7 linked regions of the Homo sapiens genome follow. The protein of the gene in region 1 purifies or fractionates together with the protein of each later gene. This does not show direct contact. Each region holds a gene or a part of one and is shown in the gene's direction. Other genes may lie near its edges.

Region 1 (3,500 bases):
AGAGCAGAGGAGAAACACCTCACTGCAGTTTCAACATGCTTTCCAAGAACAATATATACGACATATACATTTTCCTGCCTCTCTCTTGTGACAATTTCTGTTAGAATTTGTTGGGGGTCTGATGGTTAAAATCATGGGCAAGGCCATTCTCTACATCATTGCTTAATATTTCAAAAATAGGTATTAGAGCACTATCAGTGGTCCAAAATTAGTTTTAGCTACTTATTTTGCTCCATGGGTTTTGGGCTTTTCAAAGAATACTATGTATAATTTGTAATTGAAAGCCTTTCAGTAGGATATCCAAAGTTCAATGTGTTTCAAAAGGGAAAACTTTTACTTGTGGGGGTGGGAGTTAGATGTATTAAAAAAACGAAACTACAAAATCCTTTTAAGAAAGTAATACCAATTTAGACTCTAGTTTGTGTTACGAGGTATTCTTTCAAATTTTTTTTAAAAGCCAACTACTGTCATTAAGAAATAATTTTAGATTTGTGCTCTAGCAGAAAATAACTCTGTACCCATCAATCTTATTGCCAACATTCCATACCAGTGGTAGGAAAGATATTCTCATTTTTTTTATTGAACCAGACATTTTTATAAAATACTGATTGACTTTGTACATTATGGATATTATATATGAAATTTTGCCTTGTATTCTTTCACTTGAAAAAACTCCAAAATTCCACAATATTTTAGTAGTTAACTTCCTATTCTTTCTTAAATTTGATGGAGAAGGGAAAATAAATTGCAGTTATTGATTCTTGCCATCTTTGTTTTCTTAAAGAAATCTATGCATTTTAAGGATAAAACTAAAGCATATGGGTTTACATGAAACATCAGGATGGATTATTGTACATTGAATTCATTCCGCGTATAATGTGGTATTTCTTACTCTGTCCATCTTGGTAGCTGTCACTTCAAAAGAAGACAGTTTCCCTGAGTAATCATCACCTACATGGCCATTAGAGTATCTATCGGTGATAATTCCATGATACAGAGTATCTTGGCATTATAAATTCAGTATCCCAGGACCTAAACCTTTATGCTACATTTTCGAAGATTTTTTAAAAATAATATTGTTAATCAGTAAAAAAAAAAAATATTTTTGATCTAAACATAGGTTCTGCATATCTGTTAGATTTTAAAAATGACTGGTGTTTTGTCTTCACATTTTTGTCTAAGCAAGGAATATAAGATTTCAAATAAAATTTTGAACCAAAAACATTTATAATGCCGTTCTGGTTTTTCTATTACTTTTTATACTGTACTTTAAAAGCATTAGGCTGAAAGAGTTTATTTTGGTGGTCAAAAAAAATATGCTTCCACTCATGTAACTATTTTAAATGTTAAGAAGTAAAATAATGAAAGATATGTTAATTACTTTATTCAGTAAAGTTTTTTAAGAATGTTTATCTCAGCCAGTAGGCAAATACTTGGTGTAAAACAAGTTGGTCTTAAATTGTTGCAACTCATTAGCTAGTGAAGATATTCATGTAAATATATTTTAGGATTGTAATTAATTTTGAAAATGTAGAAAGCTCTTTATTCCATGTAAGTATGCAGGATGCCTGCTTTTTTATGCAGTTGTGGAAAGAATGTAAAATGTTTTAATATATTCTTTGTTAATCTGAGAACTTGATACTGAATCGTTTATGTGGGAGAAGGAAGGAGTAACATAAAACATGTTTTTATCACTCAAAGTAAGCAATGGAGGTAACAAATATTGTGCATTTTAACAGTAATATTTGAAGATTTGTAGAATATTCACCTTTAAAACTAGTTAGTATGCATTTATAATTTTACCAGAATATACAACTAACAATTCAACAGTGATGTTCTTTGCATTTGTGGGGAGATGTGTGATGTTCTTGGTTTTCTGGTTTGGAATGGAACGTTTATAGCCTTGCCTGTAAAAATGTGCCCCAGCACTTAATGAGTGACCGTTTGAATCCATATGTAGTCCCATTGGTGCTAATGAGAGTAGCTGCTGTGAAACAGGAATAAAATGTGTCTGTTCACGGAGGTGCGGTGTGGATGCACCTACAAGGCCAACTCTCTGATCAGGGTGAGGGAGAGATGGAAGAATTAACAGATCTAAAGTTGGCCTTTGTTGTCTCAAATTGGGTTTGTACACACATGCATGCATGTGTGTATACAACTGTAATCTGGAACTTCAGGAAGTAAAATTATTTGAAGTTTCTTAGTAAAAAGTAATTAGGTATAATTCCAAATAGATTTCTGTATAAATTGTATCTAACTGGATTACAAGTCAGTTTGACAATTTACGATGTCTCAGTGATGTTTCTGCAATAATTGTGAAATGCATTATTGATTTAAATAATGCTGACACGTACTCTTTAAAAGTGTTCTTTAACACTGACTACTAAACTTTAAGTTTTAAAAAATAGGTTTTCATTTATGGCTTTTTGTGGTTTTAGCACTTTAAGAAGTTTAATTTTTTGTAATTTTTAATATGCTCTTTCAGTGTATCTCAGCGGGTACTCCAGCTTGTGGCATTCCCATGTGACTGGGGAGAAGACAAAATTGGTGTTTAGATTCTGGAGGAGAAAAAATGAGTTACAATGTCAGGTGTTTTTAAAAATTCCTTTTAGAGACAGTCTTTTGGGAACCAAAGTATTTTACTGTAAATCTTTAAAATAACAGAATTCAGTGCTCTTTCATTTGTTAATGCTGTCCAGATTTTTCACACAGTTATACTCAGTTAATACTAGTTTTCAGAACATTAGTCCAAGGCTATTTCAAGTTTTCCATTGAATATATGCTTATGGTTAAAAGAAAAACGAATGGTTTTATAATTCTGTGTATTTTGTCATATGCCTTAGCAGAGTAAGTCATTTTTCCATTTTACTTAGGAATAAGCTTTTTCGAACTGAAAATTCATGGTAAAATAGGATTTCTATCTAATGTTAATCCATTGCTTATTTGTATTCAATTCCATTGTCTACAGTTTGCTTAAATGTTGACTAAGAATGATTGGAGTCAATAAATTTGTACTGTATTTTGCTTCGAGTCAGTCTCAATGGTATGCCCTGTACTTTGATAGTAACCGGGTGTAGCATTTACATTTGTGAAAGTAAAGTTAAAATCTTCCTATTTGGGTAATGTGAATAGCTGTGAGAGATTTAATTTTCCCCCGTTCCAGGTTGCTTATAGAATTAAGGTTGTATTAAAGCTTTAGTTATTTGGGCATCGCAAATACGATGATTAAAACCAGATAGGCAACCATCTTTGCTCATCTGCCATTTCCTTTACTATTCGAACTGGTAGTTTTTAAGTTGATGGGGCAGGGGGGTAAATGCAGAAAAATAACATTTTTAAGTACCCTGCATTGATATTTCTGCATAGCAGTTGATAAACCAGTTTTATTTGATAATCTAAAGAATTTAATGTCATAGCTTTTTTTTTTCATTCTAATGAGGTTTTTCTGTAAAACCGGGGTATATCATTTTTAAAAATTTTATTAGCTCTCCCTGTAACGT
Region 2 (3,500 bases), on another chromosome or scaffold:
TTAACAATATTGGAGTTGCTTAAGGCAATGCAATAGAGAGGCAGTTTCTGCCCTTTTAAAGCCTGACTTCACTTTCTGAATGTGTGTTCTGATCTAGCAGGGTTTTTTTTTTTTTTCTTTTAAGATGGTCCCAGCTTGACTGCATTCTCAGATCCATCAGATAAACGTTAGGGCTTCACTGCTGTGCTGAGAGGCCCCAGCCCCTGGGGTTCTCTCATAGAAACAACTGGAAAGAAAGGAAATGCCTTGGGCAGCAGCAGCAGCAGCTGTCTTCTGATTCTGCTTTCCGCCCTGCCTTCCTTACCAAGAGAAAGTACAGACACGGACGGCTTGAGTCACTTAGGCACTTAGGAGTTGTTTTTCACACGTGTGGTGTTTTCGTCACCATTACTATTGTGGGAAAGAAGACAACTCAGGCATCGTTTCGTATTCACTCATCTGTGTGGGTGACATGTGGGTTTTGGCTCATTTCTGCATATTTGTGTGCAAAGGAGAGTTTTTTAGTAAACAGTCCCATTACTTAGCTGTTCTTGTAACTCTGAAAACCCAACTGAACTATAATTAAACTTTGACTTGGTGACTCTGCAAACAGGCTATGATTCTTTTGTTTCTTTTCTCCTTTTAACCCATAGTTGATGTATCTAACCTAACAGAATTTTCAGAGAAAAGAAGTGAAATAAGAACTAAAAATAAATTTTTATGTCTTTAAAAATGAGAGGTTTTTTTTTTTTTTTTGGCTTTTGGAAGGTGAGTATCAAAAACCTGTACTTAATGTTACCTTGGAATTATTTCTAGATGTTTCTTATATCCTTTTGTCCCAAGTAAAATTATTACCTTCTCAGTGCGTAGTTTTTCTTATTTATTACTTCTAGTACCAAGTGTAGAGCTAAGCGTAGAGGAGACGCTTCACAGGTGCGCATTGTCGTGATTGCAGACGCCTGCCTGTACTTGTGGGGTTTTTCTCAGTTTTAGTACGTGATGACTTTTCTTTCTATAACAGGTATTTGAAATGGACATCGCTAAACAGTTACAAGCTTATGAAGTTGAGTACCACGTCCTTCAAGAAGAACTTATCGATTCCTCTCCTCTCAGTGACAACCAAAGAATGGATAAATTAGAGAAAACCAACAGCAGCTTACGCAAACAGAACCTTGACCTCCTTGAACAGTTGCAGGTAGAGCATATTTATAAAGCAGCTTCCTGAATCACAAATATATGGTAGTTCATTAACTCACCAAAGGCAACAGCAGGCTGGGCTTTCCCATGACCAGAGGACCTTTCCCACCCTGATCTGTTTATAGTTGGGATCAAAGGTATCCCGGGAGAATGGGTCCTTTTTATTATGGAGCAGACAGATTGTCCTTTGCTAAGGTCAGGCAGTCCCAGAGCTTTCTGAGAGGCTGTTTCTGCACTTAACTCTTTTAGGGGACAGGCCCAGAGATGAACTTGGATTCAGGATGCCGTGGCCTGTTAGCTGAATGCCAGCCGTTGTCATTACTCAAAGAGAATCTAAGAGCTTTTAACTTCTATGAGCAAAACCAGCTAGGTCCACAGAGGGATGGTAAAGGAGGAAAGTAACACAGAAATAAATATAACAAACCAGAAGAGATGATAATTCTTTGTGAGTCCTTGGTGCATATACAAAGATTTGATTAATGAAGGTCTCAGTTCTCCCCTCTAGAAACTTCCATTTCAACACGGATATACTCAGGTGAGGACATACAGAAGAAAGACCAGTTGAGACTGTGCACGCAGGAGGGTGTGCAGAGCAAGCACTGAGGTGCAGCACGGAGACCAGAGCTGGCCAGGTCCAGCATCACCCCCACCCCCACATCACCCAGGCACACTGCCCAAAAGAACACCTAACTGCGGAGTGCAGCTCTTTTGTCAATCTGATGGCATGAAGCAACCATATGTTCTACTTTTTTCTACTTTTTTTAATGTCACAAGTGTGTAGCAGTGCTGTCCCTGTTAAGGAGTTGTTTTGAGGGTGTTTTTAAAAGTTGTTTTTGAGTGGCTGTGGATAAAAATACATATTTTTGCCGAAATTTTTATGGTGTTCCTGGGCTGTCCTGAGAATAAGTTCCATTCTGATCTAAGCCTCTGATTTTTCTTCATAGAAAGATGAGCTTTGCAGACACAAGCTTGGCAGCAAGGTGAGAAAGGCCAGCCTAGTGAGTCAAGCTATCTGAAATGCATTCCTCCCAGCGGGCATTCCATCCCAGCATACCCTATCAGATATGTGAAAGAGAGGAACCAAGACCGAATGCTATTCCTGCCCAGCCCTAATAACCACTCACATTCTGAAATTTAACTTCTTTTTTTCCCCTGAGATGTCCTAACTGAAAATATGCCTGTATACAATTTACCCTGGAAGTCTCAGCCATCACTCAAGGGAAGTCTCCAGAGGGTGAAGAGCCTGTCTGGCCTGTAGGGGTACACAGTGTAGGTGGTCATTTTAAATGGCTTCCAAGCCAATGATAGGTCCCTGAAATATAACATGGTGGAAACTTCTAATAAAGCTCACATTTGCATTGAAGTGTTTAGCTTGTTAAGATAGGCAGTTCTCAAATAAAAGGTTTGTTTTATTGGGTAAATGACCTTGTAGTTTTTTGGTGACAGAGCATAGAAAGTAATTTCATGCTGCTCCTGTGCTATTGTTTTTGTGAAGACAGGGAGCTGTGAAAAACTGCTTAGCTACCTACATTCCTCAATAAAGGCATCAGACAGTAATTGGTGATTACAGATGTTCTCCCTGGAATGGTCGTTCTCTTGACCAAGTAGTCCTACACTTCTGGAAGGATCATTCAGAACTGTGGTCTATGCCAACCCACCAGTAGTTCCTGAGTCCCTGCAGTGCTGAGTGCTGGGGGCCACCAAGTTGAGTAAGACACTGCAGCTCTCAAAGAGTTGGATCTAGGATTGTATTGTATCGATTTGTGGTGTTTGGATATAGTTTTTCCATGATCCCCTACGAAAATATGCCTCTCATATGTAAGAATCATGCCTCCTCCGTGTACACTTTTCAGACACTGACAAGGAAGGGTGTTCAATACAGTACTGAATTTTCATATAGCTTTTCTGGGGGGGCCAAAATACCAAAATCAACCCATTTCCTACCTTTATTCTGTCCATAAAATTGTTAGAAATATCAAAATCCCATTTCATTCCCTGTTAAATACATGTGAACGTTGTCTAGACGCTGGAGAGCAAATTCTACCACCTCTTTTGTTCAGCAGTACATCAGACGATTGCATAGACGTGCCAGATGGAACCAAATAATAATGCACATGGATTTGTCATAATCCGTACAAGTCATTGACGCCCACACTGAGCCAGGTGCTGTGGGAGACAGGACCATGTGTGAAAGAGAAGACATGCTTGCTTCTATAAAAGCATCGGTGTTATTGAGGAGACCTGACATTAATGCAGAATAGCAAATGACCATGCAAATTAATTCACTACTAACTAAGCTGCAGGTTGCACCTCGGAATGCAGAG
Region 3 (3,500 bases), on another chromosome or scaffold:
AACACCGGGCACAGTGGTCGGGGTCAGAGCCAGCAAAGCGCGGGTGGCTGTGTCAGGGCTGCCACGGACTTTTAAACCTGTGATTTTTACTGTGAGAGTGAGTGAGGTTAAAGTCCGTTCATGCAGGGAGGTAGTGAGCTGTGTGCAGGGGGGGAAGCGGGTCCTTGAGGGGTCCTGGGCTCCCGTGGGGCCAGAAACTGTGTGCAGAGGATCCTAGGGACAGAGTCACCATGTCAACTGGTTTGGGTTTTCGTGGGGGCCTGAGGAGGGCATCAAGCAAAGAGTGGCCCAGCCATGGGCTTTCGTGGTCATTTCTGCCCCACCAGCGTCACTGAGGAGCCAGGCAGGCAAGTGGCCGGGGGCTGGGAAGGGCTGTGGTGCGTGCACTTGGGTCAGCGTGGTGCCCGGGTGGGGGTTGTGGGCCTGAGCCTGCGTGTGATGGGCCAAGCAGGTGAGAGGTGGTCACTCCGGACCCTACTGACCCCTGACCCTGTCTCTGTGGCGCGACCCTAGGCCCTGTGAGCCCGTGGCCACCGAGCACGTTTCCCTGGGAGGTGAAAACACCTTTTTAAAGATTTTTTTTTTTATTTTCTAAGTCATACACCTTTTCCGCAAGAGGGAGATCGCAGCTGGTGTGAACTCTTTTCTCCTCCCCTAAAGGCACATTCAGGACCCCGCGAGCCAGCGGCTGACGTGGAACAAGTCCCCAAAGAGCGTCCTTGTCATCAAGAAGATGAGAGATGCCAGCCTACTGCAGCCGTTCAAGGAGCTCTGCACGCACCTCATGGAGGCACGCGGGGCAGGGGGGAAGGGGGCCTGGGGTGCACATGGAGTTGGGGGGGCCTCCATCCACATCACCGCCCCGTGAGACCATGGGAACCACCTCAAGTGCTGGGCAACGGCTGCTTGTCTGGAACTGGGGACTGAGTGGGGATCTGCCGGGTGTCTGGGTTTGTGTGTGCCGCCATGGCAAGCACCAGACTGGGTGACCAACAATGAGCTGGTGGGCTCGTGGCCCTGGAGGCCGGGAAGTCCGAGATCAAGGGGCCACATCTGACGTGGGCCTTCCTGCTGTGTCTTCTCTTCAGAAGAGCAGGCGTGGGGGTTGCGGCGCCCAGGAAAGCCACTCCTGAAATAACAGCCTTAGTCAATTCCTGAGAGGGAGCCCCCTCCGCCCAGTCATCTCTTAAAGGTCCTGCTTCCTCCTGGCGCGTTGGTGATGAAGTTTCAGCGTGAGCGTGGGGGGGCGGGCATGCAGGCCACGATGCCAGGTCTCTGACCACAGCGCCCGTGAGTCGGGAACCTCCCTGCAGGAGGGTGGGGTCTGCAGGTGGAATGAGCAGGTTGGCACTTTGCTTCCAGGAGAACATGATCGTGTATGTGGAAAAGAAAGTGCTAGAAGACCCTGCCATCGCCAGCGATGAAAGCTTTGGGGCAGTGAAGAAGAAATTCTGTACCTTTCGAGAAGGTGGGCTGTCAGCAGCTCTGTCCTTGGTTTCTCCAGCACAGTTCCCCGCCCCATTGGAAGCTTCTGGCACTGTTGCCCTTGTCATTGGTGTCTGCGCACTGCGCCACAGAGGGGCCACTGTGTGACAGCCTCTTCTTGGTTTTGCTTTGTGTTTCCTAGATTATGATGACATTTCCAATCAGATAGACTTCATCATCTGCCTGGGGGGAGACGGGACGCTGCTGTACGCTTCCTCGCTTTTCCAGGTGAAGCGCTGACATTTCCAGACCCACACCAGGTTCTAGTCTAGGTGCTGCGTAACGAGGGGCTCACAAGCATGGCTTCCATTGCTTTTCACCCCTTTATACGAGAGCAGTCACCTAGAGCGGCCAGCACTGAGGCCCATGGTGGCAGCCCGGTGGGGTGCGACGGTGGGGCCAGGGGCAGTGTGGACACAGTGCTACGGCTGGGGGTGGCCAGCGCCCGCCTGGGACAGCAGGGAGTGGCGCAGGGTGGTGGGTCCTGGGAAACGACCTCGCCTACTGGCCCATCCCCTCTGGGCCTCCCTTGAGCTCCTCTTCCTGGTTTCTCAGCAGCACAGCTCTCCCCTGGGGCTGTAGGGCCACGCTGTGTGGGGGACCCTGGCTCTGCCCTTGGCCCACTGCATGTTGGTGACACCGGAAATGCCCGCAGCCCGCCCTGCTTTTCTCCCCATCTCCCCATTAGCACCTGTGGGGCGCGAGGCTCCGACCCCAAGGCTGCCTCCCACCCGCCCTCGCCAGCTCCCCCAGCCCTCCGTGCCCAGGGGGCCGCTCAGCCCTGCCACCTTTGTTCCTCACCAGCTCCCCACACCAACCTTGGCCCTGGTGGCCCGGCCCACCCTGGCCTGCGACGTCCCCCTCCGCTTGTCCACATGGCCAGTCCCTCCTGCAGAGGGTCGGGGTGCTGTCCCCACAGAGCTGGGTCCCTCCTGAGGTGCTGCTGGAAAGCTGGGTGGTGCGGGGGTGCACGGCGTGGGCACTGAGTGACCTCTCCGTCGGCTCACAGGGCAGCGTCCCTCCGGTCATGGCCTTCCACCTGGGCTCCCTGGGCTTCCTGACCCCATTCAGCTTTGAGAACTTTCAGTCCCAAGTTACTCAGGTGATAGAGGGTGAGTTGGAATGTTCTGGAGCCCACAGGAGCTCTGATCATGGCGCTGCTGTCTCGCTTGCTTGCGGGGGGTTTATTTTCATTTAATGATGCATGGAGCAACATTTAAAGGTTTCAAGATTCAGGGATTTCTAAATCTTGAGTGGTTCAAACCTTTTACTGACACTGAGAAGTTTCAGCAGATCACAGGTTGAAGCTGCCATGTGTGTTGGGCAGAAGTGAGCTGATTCTCACTCTCAGAAGGCACAGAAGTGTCGGCCGGGCGCGGTGGCTCACGCCTGTCATCCCAGCACTGTGGGAGGTCGAGGCGGGCGGATCACGAGGTCAAGAGATGAGACCATCCTGGCCAACACGGTGAAACCCCGTCTCTACTAAAAATACAAAAATTAGCTGGGCGTGGTGGTGCGCACCCGTAGTTCCAGCTACTTGGGAGGCTGAGGCAGGAGAATCACTTGAACCTGGGAGGCAGAGGTTGCAGTGAGCCAAGATCACACCACTGCATTCCAGCCTGGGTGACAGAGTGAGACTCCATCTCAAAATAAAAAGAAAAAGGCACAGAAGTGTGTCAACTTGGGAGAAGAAAGAGCCCTCTGACTCCCACTGGCCTCCCTGGGGTGGGGCCCCTGACCCCACTGACTTCCCTGATGCATGCCCTCTGACTCCTGCTGGACCTCAGGGAACGCAGCTGTTGTTCTCCGGAGTCGGCTGAAGGTCAGGGTGGTGAAGGAGCTCCGGGGGAAGAAGACGGCCGTGCACAATGGGCTGGGTGAGAACGGCTCGCAGGCTGCAGGCCTGGACATGGATGTCGGGAAGCAGGCCATGCAGTACCAGGTGAGTGGAGGCGCCTCGGCCTCGGTGAGGGGCCCAGGGTGGGGCGACTTCGGTCCCAGGGATGAGGACCTTC
Region 4 (2,804 bases), on another chromosome or scaffold:
TATAAATGATTTTGATTTGGAGGCCTAATTTGTAGATTGTGAAAGCAGCTTTTAGTTTAACTTATTCACAGACCCCTTATAATTACCATGTTTTTTTTTTTCTTCCTAAATCTCTTGGTTCAGCTTGTGAATCTTACGTGCCCGTAAAGTTGGGATGTTGAATTGGCTCTTCTTTGTTCTGGCAGTGAGTCAAGTGTCCAGCATTTTTTCATAAGTGTTTTTTAAAATTGTTCTCCAGCATTTTATGGCTCCTCCCTCCCATGTCCTCAGACCCAGCAAAAGCGTAGAGGCAGAATTAGAGGCCTCTCCAGGCCAGCTCCTCTGCCCACATGTCATACAAGGTGTGAATTTGAGCACAGTCCAGAAATGGAGACATCCCACCCCCAGTTGAATAATGGCCCATTCATGCCAACCTTGCCAACACGGAGAGGGCAGAGATGCACTAGAAGACCTTCATCCTCCCCTTCCTCTGCCCCAAGTCACTACAGTTGGTTCTATTGAAGCCAGTCTTTAAGAAACCTGGGTTAAAGACACCAGCACTTCTGCTTGCTGGGCTGGCTGGACCTGTGAAGCCATGGGCAGGTAGTGCCCTCTTGAGAGTCATTTTATTTGGCCACCTTCAGGTGAGACTATCCATAGACACATGCTAGGATAGGCCCCGCTGGGAGGGCAGTTACAGGAGAGAGTAGGTGGTGGTGACGTGAGGGCTGTGAAGGATCCAGAGACAAGACTTAGATGTTTCGTTCATTCACTCACTCATTCAGTTACTCCTAAGACTTTTCAGTTTCATAAGGAAGAGTGTTGCCTGAGGCCCTAGGGAATATTGGGGAATAGAAGGGATTGAGGAAACATTAATAATAGTTATTCAAAAGACCCAAATGCTTATACTTCTCTCTCCCTTCTTCTCTCTCTGACACACACACACACACACACACACACACACACACACACGTGCACATTCCTCCCTTACATGCTCATTTGTGCCTTAAATGTGCCTTATAGGTAAATCCAGGATGACTGAGGAATCCCTCGTCACTGGGAGATTTTGTATATATTCTTTTATTATTAGATTGAGTTGGGTGTGGGGAAAAATTTTTTTCTGAAGGCTCAAAAGTGGTTTCCTAAAAGTGAGCCACTATCAGATTTGCACATCAGGAGAAAAGAAATAGGGTTACGTCCATTAGGAAAATCCCAGTTTGCAGGAGTGCAATCACATCAAAAAAACAACCAGCCAGGATTAAAGGTATTATAAATCCTCATAGCGGAACATTTCTCAGGGCAAAGGAACCTGGCTCATTTGAAGATTAATGTTCCATGCCTTTGTGGTCAAAGGGTCAGCACTTAACACAGGAAAAAACTAGGTGTTGTTTTGTTTTGTTATTTTGGACAACATAAAATTCAGGAATGTTTTATTTAGCCTTGGTTTCTAGAAGGAAGGGAAATAATATTTCTTGAGCATTTACTAGGGTGTTGCGTGCTGTGCTAAGTAAATTTTAAGTCTTTCAGTTTTATAGATACGGAAAACAAGGGTGACTCTTTACCACAGGATGAATAAAGAACTAAGTAATATGGGAAATGCAGCAATTTCTGGACTAGCTGAGCCGATTCCTTCCTGTGAGCACACTGTAAGCTTTCAAGTTCTCTGGGCAGGAATTACAGCACCTGTCCCCTGCAATGGCCCTGCTGTGTGATGCTCATCGCTTCCCTTCGTGCTGGAGCAGTCCCCCAGGTGTCCATCTCCTATCTTTTTGTTCCAATCTTCTGTGAGTTCCAGCTAGCAGGCTTTACATCTGGGGAAAGGAAAACCAGGGGTTTTAGCTCTGTTCTCTGCTCCCATCCTTCGCTCACCAGCTGAGTGAGAACATGAACTTTTTGCACCATGTACCCATGGCTTACACTACTTAGAAAATCACCTTTTCAGATAAAACAGTTTATGAGTTCATAGAGAACACCAGCACTCTTTGACAAAACTGTGAGTGACCCTTTTTAAACAATGCTGAGCAGGCCCTGAGCTATAATCAACGGTGAGCTTTAATGTCTATGCTGACAGTTAGGTTTTGCTCTCTTTTGTAACAGGTTACGTAGACCAGCAGTGTTTAAATCTAAATACGTTGTGAGTCTGTTATCTGTCCTATCGCGTTTTTTAAATGACTTTTTATTCTTTATCATAGCTAAGTAAATACCAAAAAAAAAAAAAAGCTTTGTAGGACACTTGTACTTAGTTTGGGAAAAAAAAATAAATTGAAATTGTTATGCTTTTGTATTTCCATTTCTTGCAAATAAATATTTTTTCTTAAATAGTAAGATGTTGCCCAGTCTTTATAATCTTGGTACTAATTTGAAAAGCATGTTGTTTTTTTATGAACATGGGTTTGTGTATGTGTGCCGAACCGTTCTTTCCTGGATATCTACTTGGCCTGAAAGAAGAGCCTCAAACCAGCAATTGGTATGTTATATAGGACTGAATCCAAGCCTTAGTTGGAGGAATATTGAGAATGTAATTGTTTTTTCAGGCAGCCACGGGAAGAAAAACAGTATCCTCTAGAGACTTATGCAGCATGACTGTTATTTTTATTGTCTCCTCTAACTATTCCCTAACTAGATTTCAACTGTCTGTGGATTTGATTTTGCTTTCCCCATCTCTGGTTGCTTGAGAAAGATCCTTTGGACTTGAGCCAGAAAGGAATGATCCTTCTTCCTACGAACAGTTGCAGAGGATGTCTAACAGATTCATGCTCCAGAAATTCTGATGAAATGGTTGATAAAGGTCAGTGCACTCAAGCAGAGTAATCTTCGTTCCATTA
Region 5 (4,058 bases), on another chromosome or scaffold:
GAGAACTGAAAATAATTTAGGATAATCTGTTGTGTCCTTTGATTGTCTTCCATGCAAGTCAGAGTATTTCCTAAACATATTATTTAGCAGTGCCTCATATCACCCTTGAAAGGCAAGAGACAGACTACAGTATTATTACCCCCTTTTTATCACAGGGAAACTGAGGAACAAGAAGACAAAATTACAGTATGGTCACAAAAGCCATCATATTTTCTAGGACTTTAATTAAAGGCTCCAAGCCTACATTTCATCTTTTATTCTTCGCACCATCTGAATACTAGAATTATCTTTTACTATCGTCTTAACTGGAAAAAATAAAAATATCTAAACTTTAACATCATTTTCTCAATTTGGTACTGTCACAAAAAAAAAAAAAAAACAGTTTTAAAAGTCTGCCCTTGAAATGATATTTGCAAGAACAGCAAGGTGTAAGCAGTAACCCAACCTCCAAAAAATACAGTTGTAAATCTTACAGCTGTAATATAGTTGTAAATCTTAAGACAGGTCAGGAATCCTAGACCCAGCCTTTACTTTGAACATCTGGCAGGCCTCAGGGAAATAATGGAGATTCGTGTCTGTAAACAGTCTTTGCAGATGCTCTGATGAAAAGGTGCCCTAAGAGGCCCAGAACAGTGGTATCACTGCACCCACTACTGCAAACATGAAATCCTCCTCTGTCCCTCCCTGCATTGCACCACGAGACTCGTGGCACACACGGAGGCCTGTGCAAGAACCTCTCGACGATTCCTTTAAAATGTGGTAATATAAGGACGCCTTTGGTGCTGGGCCTCCGTAAACACTGAGGATACCGGATGTGGCCAGGCACACCTCAAAGTCTTGGCTCTCCAAAACCAGGGCCTGGTCGAGAGTTTTATTGGACACCGAGTTCCTGCGAATATCTCACTTTTCACACAGGCACTGCCAATCCCTACCCTCCAGTACCCTTCCTCAGCCTCCTGCCCCACTCTCGCCGCGAGTGTGGGCGTCCCAAAGAGCTAAGGAGGGTAAGGTTGGTTAGAGCGCAGGGGCCAAGGCCGCGGCAGCGAGGCCGTCCAGCGCGGGCTAGGATCCCGCCAGCCCAGCCCTGGAGCCCGGCCGCCTGGCCCCAGCCCTGGCCCGGGCCAACGCGCCGCCGCCACCGCCTATCAGCGGAGCGCAGGGGCGGGGTGCTGTCCGGACTAGGCTGCCGGGCCGGCGGGCGGGGGCGGGCGGGGACGGGCGGGGGACCGACCTCTGCGCAGCCCAGGCCGCCGCGCGCACACACCGGGCCCGGCTCCTGAGGGCGCCAGCGCGGCCCCGGGGAGCGCGAGGAGCCGGCGAAGCGCGCGGCCTGCCGTTGGCGGCCTGGTCCGCAGCGCCCTGCGCCCACCCGCCCCGGACGTGGGGCCCAAGCCCCCGTGAAGATGGTGTCCTGGATGATCTCCAGAGCCGTGGTGTAAGTGCCTCTCACTGCGCCCTGCAGCCGGCGCGAGGCCCAGGGGAGCTGTGGGAAGGGGAAGGAGCCGAGAGGAAAGGGAAGGCCTGGGCCTGGGCGGGGACGGGGTAGCCCGGCCTCGGGCCTGCCGAGGGTCTGGGGGAGCCCTCGGCTTCCTCACCTTGGTCCACGTCGCTGCGGAGCTCCCTGCGACGGCCGAGGGCCTAGCTGCGGCGACTGCGGCTGCGACGGCGGCGGCGGCTGTGGCGCTGCTCGGCTGCGTGCGGTGCGGCGCGGCGCCCCTGCTCCGGCGGCGCTGGGTGGGCAGGCGCTCAGGGCAGGCGGCGCGCGCTCCCCGCTCCTGCTCCCCGCGCAGCGCGGCACCGCCCTGCGGGCCCGGGAGCGGCGCGCCTCGCAGCTGCTCCCTGCGCAGGCTCCGCAGACGCCGAGCGCGGGAGGCTCCGCGATCCTCCCGAGGATGCGACGGCAGTGCCGAGCCTTTGTATCCCGCGGCTGATGCGTTGCGGTGTCTCTCTTGGCGGCTGATTGCCATTCGGTCACGTGTGGTAGGAGGAGAGATTTGTCTAAAAACCGGAGACCGCTCCCAGCCCAGGATCCCTGGGAAGGGTCCTAGTTTTCCCAAGATTTGCAGCTTACCGAGAAAGGTGACACCGGCTGCTCGCCCAGATCCCCGAATTCGGCCCTGTCTCGGCGGAAATATTTGCTAAGTGATTGAAAGGCTGCAGGTGCCTGTTGCCTTTGTTCAAATTATGGGTTCATTTCATTGTTCTCCTACCAACAAGTGCTACAGGTCTGTAAGAAAAAGAAATTCCTTGAGTTGGTGGTGTTAATCGTGTAAATGTATTTGAATACAGTTTAAACTGATTTTCTCTCATCTCCATTTTACCCCTCTCCCCGATTAAAAAAAAAGTCACCAAGTAAACAATGACGTAGTTACAGCTAGGGCCTATGAATTCATTATTCACCTCTGTAGTAGTGTTATCTCAGAAGGTTTCATAAAGGTATATGAAAAAATGTTTATGTGAGGGGGCAGGCTTCTCTGATAAGCTTTAGAATTTAGGAAAAATAACATTACCAGACTTTTTGTTAAAAGGAGCTAGATTTTCTGAGTTTGGGGTTTATTTTGTTTGGAAGTGAATTACTAGCCCTATTTAATCAGATTTGCAGCACAGCATTCAAAATTTTTCATTTGATTAAATCGCAAAGTTTCTAGTTTTAAAGCCTCAGAGCTTCCTGTGTTCCCCTGTACGAAACTAAAAATCAAGATATAAACAAAAGGATACCACAGATGCCTTCAGATTGTTTTTCAGCCTTTTCCTGGCCTCTCTTTTGAGTCTGTCATTTATCTAATTCAGGCATACCTTTCTTGACCTAGTAGATGTCTATCAACTGTTGTGTCCACACCTAGAAAATCAAGTGCCCTATTAAGAAGCTGTACTTTACAAAAAAAAAAAAAAAAGCCTCTGGATTTCTTTGACCAGTTCTTCAGCTGACAGAAAATTGTGAAGCACTTTTAGACTTTTGTTTTTCATAATTGCCAATGAATATGAATGTCTGTTCTAGGTGCTACCTATAACACAAAGGTCAGTAACACGTAGTTGATCATGGGAATTGACAGTTTGGGTGCACAGATATCTGCAGTACAGGTCCAAATGTCAACTCTTGTAAAAGTTACACCCACTCTAATACCCAGTGTTGGACAAGGAAGGGATATCTGGTTGGAGAATCAGAAAAGGCAAGGGAGATTACGTTTCAGATGGGCCTTAAAGAATAGGCCCAGTAGAGTGGCTCACACCTGTAATCCTAGCACTTTGGGAGGCCAAGGAGGGAAGATTGTTTGATCACAAGAGTTAGAGACCAGCCTGGGCAACATAGCGAGACCTTGTCTCCACAAAAAAAGAAAAATTTAATTAGCTAGTCACAGTAGCTCACACCTGTAATCCCAGCTACTCAGGGACTGAGGTAGGAGGATCGCTCAAATTCAGGAGGTCAAGGCTGCAGTGAGCCGTGATCGTGCCACTGCACTCCAGCCTGGGCCACAGAGTGAGACTGTGCCTCAGAAAAAAAACAAAAAAGAATGGACAGAATCTAGGCAGCCAAAGATGAAAAAGGAAAGGATTCCAGATATAGGGACCGGCGTGAGCCAAAGCCCAGAGGAGGAAAAGCCCAGATTAGTTACAGTGGGCGTGAGGGACTCGGGTGGGGAAAAAGCAAGCTGGAAAGGTAGCCTGGGGCCTGTTTTCAAGAAAGAAGGGGTAAATGTTATAAGGCAGCAACAGCTTTGCTTTGGAAGATTCTCTGCCCTTCTGTGAAATGATTGGCAATGGAGACCTGGAAGACAAGGAGACTCCTTAGGAGGCTCCCTAACTGGAGAGAGGGGATTAAAGCCTCTCTCCAGTTAAAGTACTTGAGCTACAGAATGTAAGGTTTGAGGCTAACGACAGGGAGCAATAATGTGAGGAAGAAAATGTCATGAAAAGAAATGTATTTCTCAAGTGTCAGGAACTGTTATTTTGTGAGCCGTGAACACATTAGCACATTAGAAAGCACACTTGTAGAGAATATAAACATCATTCTATTTTTCCTCTTTACTCAGTTTCTCTCTCTAAACATGAAAGAGCAA
Region 6 (2,381 bases), on another chromosome or scaffold:
CTCCCAAGCCCAAAATCGCAGCCATCGCCTCCATGAAGTCCCCCGAGGCCGACCCTGTGGAACCAGCTTGTGGAGTCAGCCGAAGACCCTCCCTCCAGCGGTCTAAGTCAGACTTGAGTGACAGATATTTCCGAGTGGACGCGGACGTGGAGAGGTTCTTCAACTACTGTGGACTGGACCCGGAAGAGCTGGAAAACCTGGGAATGGAAAACTTTGCAAGGGCTAATTCTGACATAATATCCCTCAACTTCCGCAGCGCAAGCATGATCAGCTCAGACTGTGAACAGTCTCAGGACAGTAACAGTGACCTTAGAAATGATGACAGTGCCAATGACCGCGTGCCGTATGGCATTTCTGCCATCGAAAGAAATGCTAGAATCATCAAGTGGTTATATAGCATCAAACAAGCTAGAGAGTCACAGAAGGTCTCCCATGTGTAAGACAGTGCGTGGAAAGGAGGGAGCGTGGGTCTCTGTGCTTACGCAGTTGTGAAGGTTGTGAGGTCTCCTTGAAGTGTTGTGAGCTTCTCCACTCTTTGTGTTGCTTGTTGTGCAATGTTTTCAAGTTGCATGCTTGTCAACATGGGGACTGACCTGGCTTCCACGTCACCATCGCTACAGAGCCTGGCTGAACACGCGTCATCTGCCAAAAGTTTCAGGCCAGAATCTAATTAGGGCTTTGCTCGTAAGCAAAACTGTTTACATGAAAATGGTATACAACTTCTTCGATATTTATGTGGTTCTTGTGTTTTTATATCCCGCGCTATTGTGTCTTAATTAAAAGTTTTATCAACTGGCTTTTAAGTTGAGAGCAGAATCTTTTTGAAATAAAAAGCCACTTTGCCTACATGTGAGACTATTCCAGTGGGACAGTAAATGGGATCTGCTACCAAACAGATAATGACTGACCGAACATAGAACCAGGCTGGGTTTTCTGTGGAATAAAGTGGTGAGCCTGACGTTAATCGTTTACATGTTGAAATTCTCTTGCCACTTAGTGAAGCAGTCATTGGGGTAACAATGCTACGTTTTGTGTCCGATTCAGTGTGTAAACGTTGGTGGTTCTATGTAATACTGACCCCAAGGAAAGACGATCAGATACAAAGAAAGATGGTTAAATCTAGGAGGTTGGGTGTTTGGGGGTTTTGTTGATGTTGTTCTGATTGGGATAATTCAGAAATTCCTAATATTATCTTTCGACAGAATGACCACCCTAAAACAAATACTGAATGCCTTTAAAAAAAAAAAAAGTTGTGGTTTTTTGTTTTTTTTTTTTTTTTTTTTGGTCGAGAACTACTAATTTCATGCTATTTCTTTCTCTCTCCCTTTGTTGTTATTTGATTTGGGGGAAGGGAGTGAGGCTTGTGCAGATTTGAGCTATCTGAAGACATGAACAGAAGTCAAATACCAGCCATATCAGTAGAGCCTTCCATTCAAAAGTGAACACACTTGGTAGCTGAACCATATCTGAGCAGCGTGATTCTGTTGTCTTGCATATGTTATTCTCTCAGGCTGTGGATCTTTGTTACAGCTCTAGGAAACTGTAGAAATACAATGCTATGTAGCTTTTCCACCCCATGGTCTCTAGTGCTGCCTATCAACTTGTCCCCTTTTTTCCCAATAACCTGTCTTCCAGGTGGTACAGTTAGCTGTCACTCAGCTGACACCATGATGTGGCAGCAGAGAGGGAAACCTACAAGTGGTTTGCCTCATTGCCTTTGCCACATCTGAAGTTCTCAGCAGCACTACCTTAGACTTCATGAGCTAATAGGAAACTTTTTATGGTGTAAATGCTGTAAGACTTTGTACATACTTCAGTTGTTATGAAATCTTTAAAGAAAAAAAGAAAAAGTTACGCTAATAAATTGCTGTGGTGCAGGCACTAATGGTGGTGGTTTCTCTTTGTCCTGTATTGCACAAAAGTTTAACTTTGGACTATGAAACAGAAGCAGATTTTTGATAGGCTTGAAGAAACATTATTTCATTAAGTTATTTTCACCATATTCCAATTACTCTAAACACCAGTGTTCTTAATTGTGGCTCTAGCAATGTGCTTTTGCTAAACTGATTACATCAAGGTTCCTAAAATGTGCTGCAGCATCTCAGTTCACACTTGTGTTATTTTTGTCTTTTCTTAAACATCAGGATTTTTTACATCTTCCACACAACTCTTCAGTTATAAATATTTTGAGTTCTCACCTTGGAGGCACACCTTTGAAATGTATGGCTTCGTTTTTATTTGTACCAGCCCAACATCCCTACCATGGCATGTGTTCACACACTCGCTCCTCCACTCCTTCCTTCATTCCTCTTCAAAATGTCACTGTTTGAGTGACTCATTTCAGGTATCATGGTAGGCACGGGACTGCCATAGTCAACAAC
Region 7 (3,500 bases), on another chromosome or scaffold:
CCCAGAAGAGGTGGCAGGCAGCAAGGAGAGAGGAATGAGAACTGTGGGCTCAGAGAGGAGCAGAACCTTACTATACTACTCTCACAGAAGTGGGGGAAGGAACCTTAGGAGCACAGTGGCCTGCTGTCTCTAACTGATCTACTTGGTTTTCCCTGGTCCAGGAGTGATACGCGCCCCCTGAGGCACACCTGGAAACCCAGCCCTCTGATTGTCATGCAGCGCAATGCCTCTGTTCCCAACCTGCGTGGGTCCGAGGAGAGGCTTCTGGCCCTGAAGAAGCCAGCTCTGCCAGCCCTAAGCCGCACTACTGAGCTGCAGGACGAGCTGAGCCACTTGCGCAGCCAGATTGCAAAGATAGTGGCAGCTGATGCAGGTAGGAGCCCCTGTGCCAGGGCCAGAACGTAACAGGCTGTTCCTTTCCCCTGGCTCTTGGGCAGGATAGGGGTAAAGAAAGTGGTAATCCTTGGTTTGCAGGTACTTAGGTTCCGGGCCCTGGGGTTGTCCTGAAGCCTGGCTAGCCAGTAGTGCCTCTTAGATGGTTTCTACCAGCCATTTTGGGCTGAATGGTTTGGTTAAGAACAAAATATTAACCTGTGACCCCAGGCAGAGTCCCTCCCTTAGCCCCCAAACTGATACCCTCTTCTAAGTGTCTTTAAGATCACATCTTACATAAGCCCACAGTAGCTTTTTTTTTTTCTCCTCTGAGTGAGTCTTGCTCTGTCGCCCAGGCTGGAAGTGCAGTGGCACGATCTTAGTTCACTGCACTCTGCCTCCCAGGTGCAAGCGATTCTCCTGCCTCAGCCTCCTGAGTAGCTGGGACTACAGGGGTGTGCCACCAGGCCTGGCTAATTTTTATATTTTTAGTAGAGACAGAGTTCCACCATGTTGGCCAGGCTGGTCTTGTATTCCTGACCTCAGATGACCCACCCACCTCAGCCTCTCAAAGTGCTGGGATTATAGGTGTGAGCCACCGAGCCCAGCCAGTTTTCCTTTTTTTGGAGACAGGGTCCTGGTTCTTGCTCTGTTGCCCAGGCTGGAGTGCAGTGGCGCAATCTTGGCTCACTGCAACCTCTGCCTCCCAGGCTCAAGCGATTCTCGTGCCTCAGCCTCCTGAGTAGCTGGAATTACGGGTGTGCACCACCACACCTGGCTAATTTTTTTATTTTTAGTAGAGACGGGGTTTTGCCACATTAATCAGGCTGGTCTCAAACTCCTGGCCTCAAGCAATCCACCCAGCTCGGCCTTCCAAAGTGCTAAGATTATAGGCATGAGCCACTGTGCCCGCGGTTGAAACAAGAGTCTCATTCTGTCACCCAGGTTGGAGTGCGGTGGCACGATCTTGGCTCACTGCAACCTCCACCTCCTGGGTTCAAGCAGTTCTCGTGCCTCTGCCTCCCGAGTAGCTGGGATTATAGGCGCATGCCACCATGCCCAGCTAATTTTTTGTATTTTTAGTAGAGATAGGGTTTCGCCATTGCCCAGGCTGGTCTCAAACTCCTGAGCTCAAGCAATCCACTTGCCTCAGCCTCCCAAAATGCTAGGATTACAACCATGAGCCACCGCGCCCTGCTTTCCTTTTCAATACAAGAAGTAAACATTCCCCCCACCACCACTGAGACTTACCCTTTTTAAGCACCTATCTTCCCTTGCCTTGTTGTTTCTACCAGGAATCACAAGTGGCTTTACCACTTCAGTTCTTATACTGCTAGTGACATTGTCCCCATGCCCCACCCTTCAAAGTGGGGAGTTTCATGACATTATGTTATGTTTTCTTATCTCAAATTGGTGGACTTTTTTGGTGGAAGGAGAATTTCATAAAGTTGGAGATCTTGGCCTTAAAATACAGTGGTCGGGCACTGTGGCTTACGCCTGTAATCCCAACACTTTGGAAGGCTGAGGTGGGTGGATCACCTGAGGTCAGGAGTTCGAGACCAGCCTGGCCAACATGGTGAAACCCTGTCTCTATAAAAAATACAAAAATTAGCTGGGCATCGCAGCATGTGCCTTGAACCTGGAAGGTGGAGGTGGAGGCAGAGGTGGAGGTTGCAATGAGCTGAAGTTGCACCACTGCACTCCAGCATGGGCGACAGAGTGAGACTCCGTCTCAAAAAAAGAAAAAAAAAAAACAGTGGTCTATTATGCAAACAAGCCCTGTAACCCACCCCTCCAGCTTTCTGTCTACAGTTAAGGCAGAACCACTGGAAATGGATGGGAAGCCTGCCTTAACCAGAGGCATGGACAGCCAACAGGTGGATCGCTCCCAAGATGCTCAGGGCTTATCTTCATATTCCTCCCATCCTCATTTTTTCACTCTGCATTGACTCAGAGTCATAGCTCTGAAATTTATCATTTGGTAGGACACATGAAAATCATGGTGTTCTTTGAAATCTTCATGTATTTAATTTCTTCACATGGAAGTTTTATGAAGAATTGTACTGAAACTTTGTTATTTCTTGGCTACTTTTTTGTCATCCAAGAGACAAGCAGAAGTAACATCTTTTTTAGAAACATAGTTTTTAGTGTATTTAGTGTTTTTAAAGTATTTTTAGAAATGTAAAAACTGAGGAAATTCTCTCCACTGAAATTTGGGGAGGTTGGGAGGTCTGTTACCATTCTGGTTTTGCTCAGAACATGTCTTCTAGTTCACAGATAGCAAGATTTCAAAGGAGCATAGTCAAAAGCACTAGTCTAGTTAGAGAAAAGGACAAATTCAGGCCTTAGCTCTTATCTCTGCTGCTTTGGCCTATGACAGGGCTGTCACTCCACAGCCTATTGTGGAATGGGAGCTTTTAAATGCCAAGGCCATTATGGGGCTGGGTTTTCCTGCCTTCCTGGAACACTGGAAAAGCCCAGTGCTTCTACAGCTTTCTGAGCCCCCGAGTGAGAAGCATAGTGGAATGACCCTCCACTGGCTACAGATACCATCCTGGCTCTCCCAGATTGTCATGGTGTCAGCCCAGGAAATGAATGTTCAGTAGGCAGGGCTGTGGGGAGAAGATATTGCTACTGTGTTCTAGCCCCAATGTCCACCCATGCCTATTGTTTTCTCTTTCAGCTTCGGCTTCATTAACGCCAGATTTCTTATCTCCAGGAAGTTCAAATGTCTCTTCTCCCTTACCTTGTTTTGGATCCTCATTCCACTCTACAACTTCCTTTGTCATTAGTGACATCACCGAGGAGACAGAGGTGGAGGTCCCTGAGCTTCCATCAGTCCCCCTGCTTTGTTCTGCCAGCCCTGAATGTTGCAAACCAGAACACAAAGCTGCCTGCAGTTCGTCTGAAGAGGATGACTGCGTCTCTTTGTCCAAGGCCAGCAGCTTTGCAGACATGATGGGTATCCTGAAGGACTTTCACCGAATGAAACAGAGTCAAGATCTGTAAGTATCTGATGAGGAGCTCTGGTATCTATTTACTCAGAGTTGCCCATGGCCAATTATGTAATGCAACATACTTACATAGTAAGTTCTTAGTAGTACCATATGTTATGTCATTCATAAAGC

Evidence for each region.
Region 2: the proteins of ZBTB21 (region 1) and TBC1D1 purify together in Homo sapiens (affinity purification with mass spectrometry, with the first as the bait; one large-scale study listed by BioGRID). This does not show direct contact.
Region 3: the proteins of ZBTB21 (region 1) and NADK purify together in Homo sapiens (affinity purification with mass spectrometry, with the first as the bait; one large-scale study listed by BioGRID). This does not show direct contact.
Region 4: the proteins of ZBTB21 (region 1) and CREB3L2 purify together in Homo sapiens (co-immunoprecipitation; one large-scale study listed by IntAct). This does not show direct contact.
Region 5: the proteins of ZBTB21 (region 1) and REEP3 purify together in Homo sapiens (affinity purification with mass spectrometry, with the first as the bait; one large-scale study listed by BioGRID). This does not show direct contact.
Region 6: the proteins of ZBTB21 (region 1) and FAM110B purify together in Homo sapiens (affinity purification with mass spectrometry, with the first as the bait; one large-scale study listed by BioGRID). This does not show direct contact.
Region 7: the proteins of ZBTB21 (region 1) and MTFR1L purify together in Homo sapiens (affinity purification with mass spectrometry, with the first as the bait; one large-scale study listed by BioGRID). This does not show direct contact.

The regions. Positions count from the first base shown.
Region 1 is NC_000021.9:41,986,361-41,989,860, reverse strand, and holds the end of ZBTB21 (zinc finger and BTB domain-containing protein 21), read left to right. Parts: 3' UTR 1-3,030; downstream 3,031-3,500. UniProt on the Homo sapiens protein: Acts as a transcription repressor.
Region 2 is NC_000004.12:38,132,084-38,135,583, forward strand, and holds part of TBC1D1 (TBC1 domain family member 1), read left to right. Parts: intron 1-1,000; coding exon 1,001-1,174; intron 1,175-3,500. UniProt on the Homo sapiens protein: May act as a GTPase-activating protein for Rab family protein(s). May play a role in the cell cycle and differentiation of various tissues.
Region 3 is NC_000001.11:1,754,471-1,757,970, reverse strand, and holds part of NADK (NAD kinase), read left to right. Parts: intron 1-660; coding exon 661-790; coding exon of another isoform or gene 791-864; intron 865-1,088; exon of another isoform or gene 1,089-1,192; intron 1,193-1,313; coding exon of another isoform or gene 1,314-1,362; coding exon 1,363-1,468; intron 1,469-1,627; coding exon 1,628-1,713; intron 1,714-2,494; coding exon 2,495-2,597; intron 2,598-3,272; coding exon 3,273-3,427; intron 3,428-3,500.
Region 4 is NC_000007.14:137,874,479-137,877,282, reverse strand, and holds the end of CREB3L2 (cyclic AMP-responsive element-binding protein 3-like protein 2), read left to right. Parts: 3' UTR 1-2,304; downstream 2,305-2,804. UniProt on the Homo sapiens protein: Transcription factor involved in unfolded protein response (UPR).
Region 5 is NC_000010.11:63,520,143-63,524,200, forward strand, and holds the start of REEP3 (receptor expression-enhancing protein 3), read left to right. Parts: upstream 1-1,258; 5' UTR 1,259-1,403; coding exon 1,404-1,435; intron 1,436-1,595; exon of another isoform or gene 1,596-1,748; intron 1,749-4,058. UniProt on the Homo sapiens protein: Microtubule-binding protein required to ensure proper cell division and nuclear envelope reassembly by sequestering the endoplasmic reticulum away from chromosomes during mitosis.
Region 6 is NC_000008.11:58,146,904-58,149,284, forward strand, and holds the end of FAM110B (protein FAM110B), read left to right. Parts: coding exon 1-440; 3' UTR 441-1,881; downstream 1,882-2,381. UniProt on the Homo sapiens protein: May be involved in tumor progression.
Region 7 is NC_000001.11:25,826,454-25,829,953, forward strand, and holds part of MTFR1L (mitochondrial fission regulator 1-like), read left to right. Parts: intron 1-161; coding exon 162-373; intron 374-3,055; coding exon 3,056-3,377; intron 3,378-3,500. UniProt on the Homo sapiens protein: Mitochondrial protein required for adaptation of miochondrial dynamics to metabolic changes. Regulates mitochondrial morphology at steady state and mediates AMPK-dependent stress-induced mitochondrial fragmentation via the control of OPA1 levels.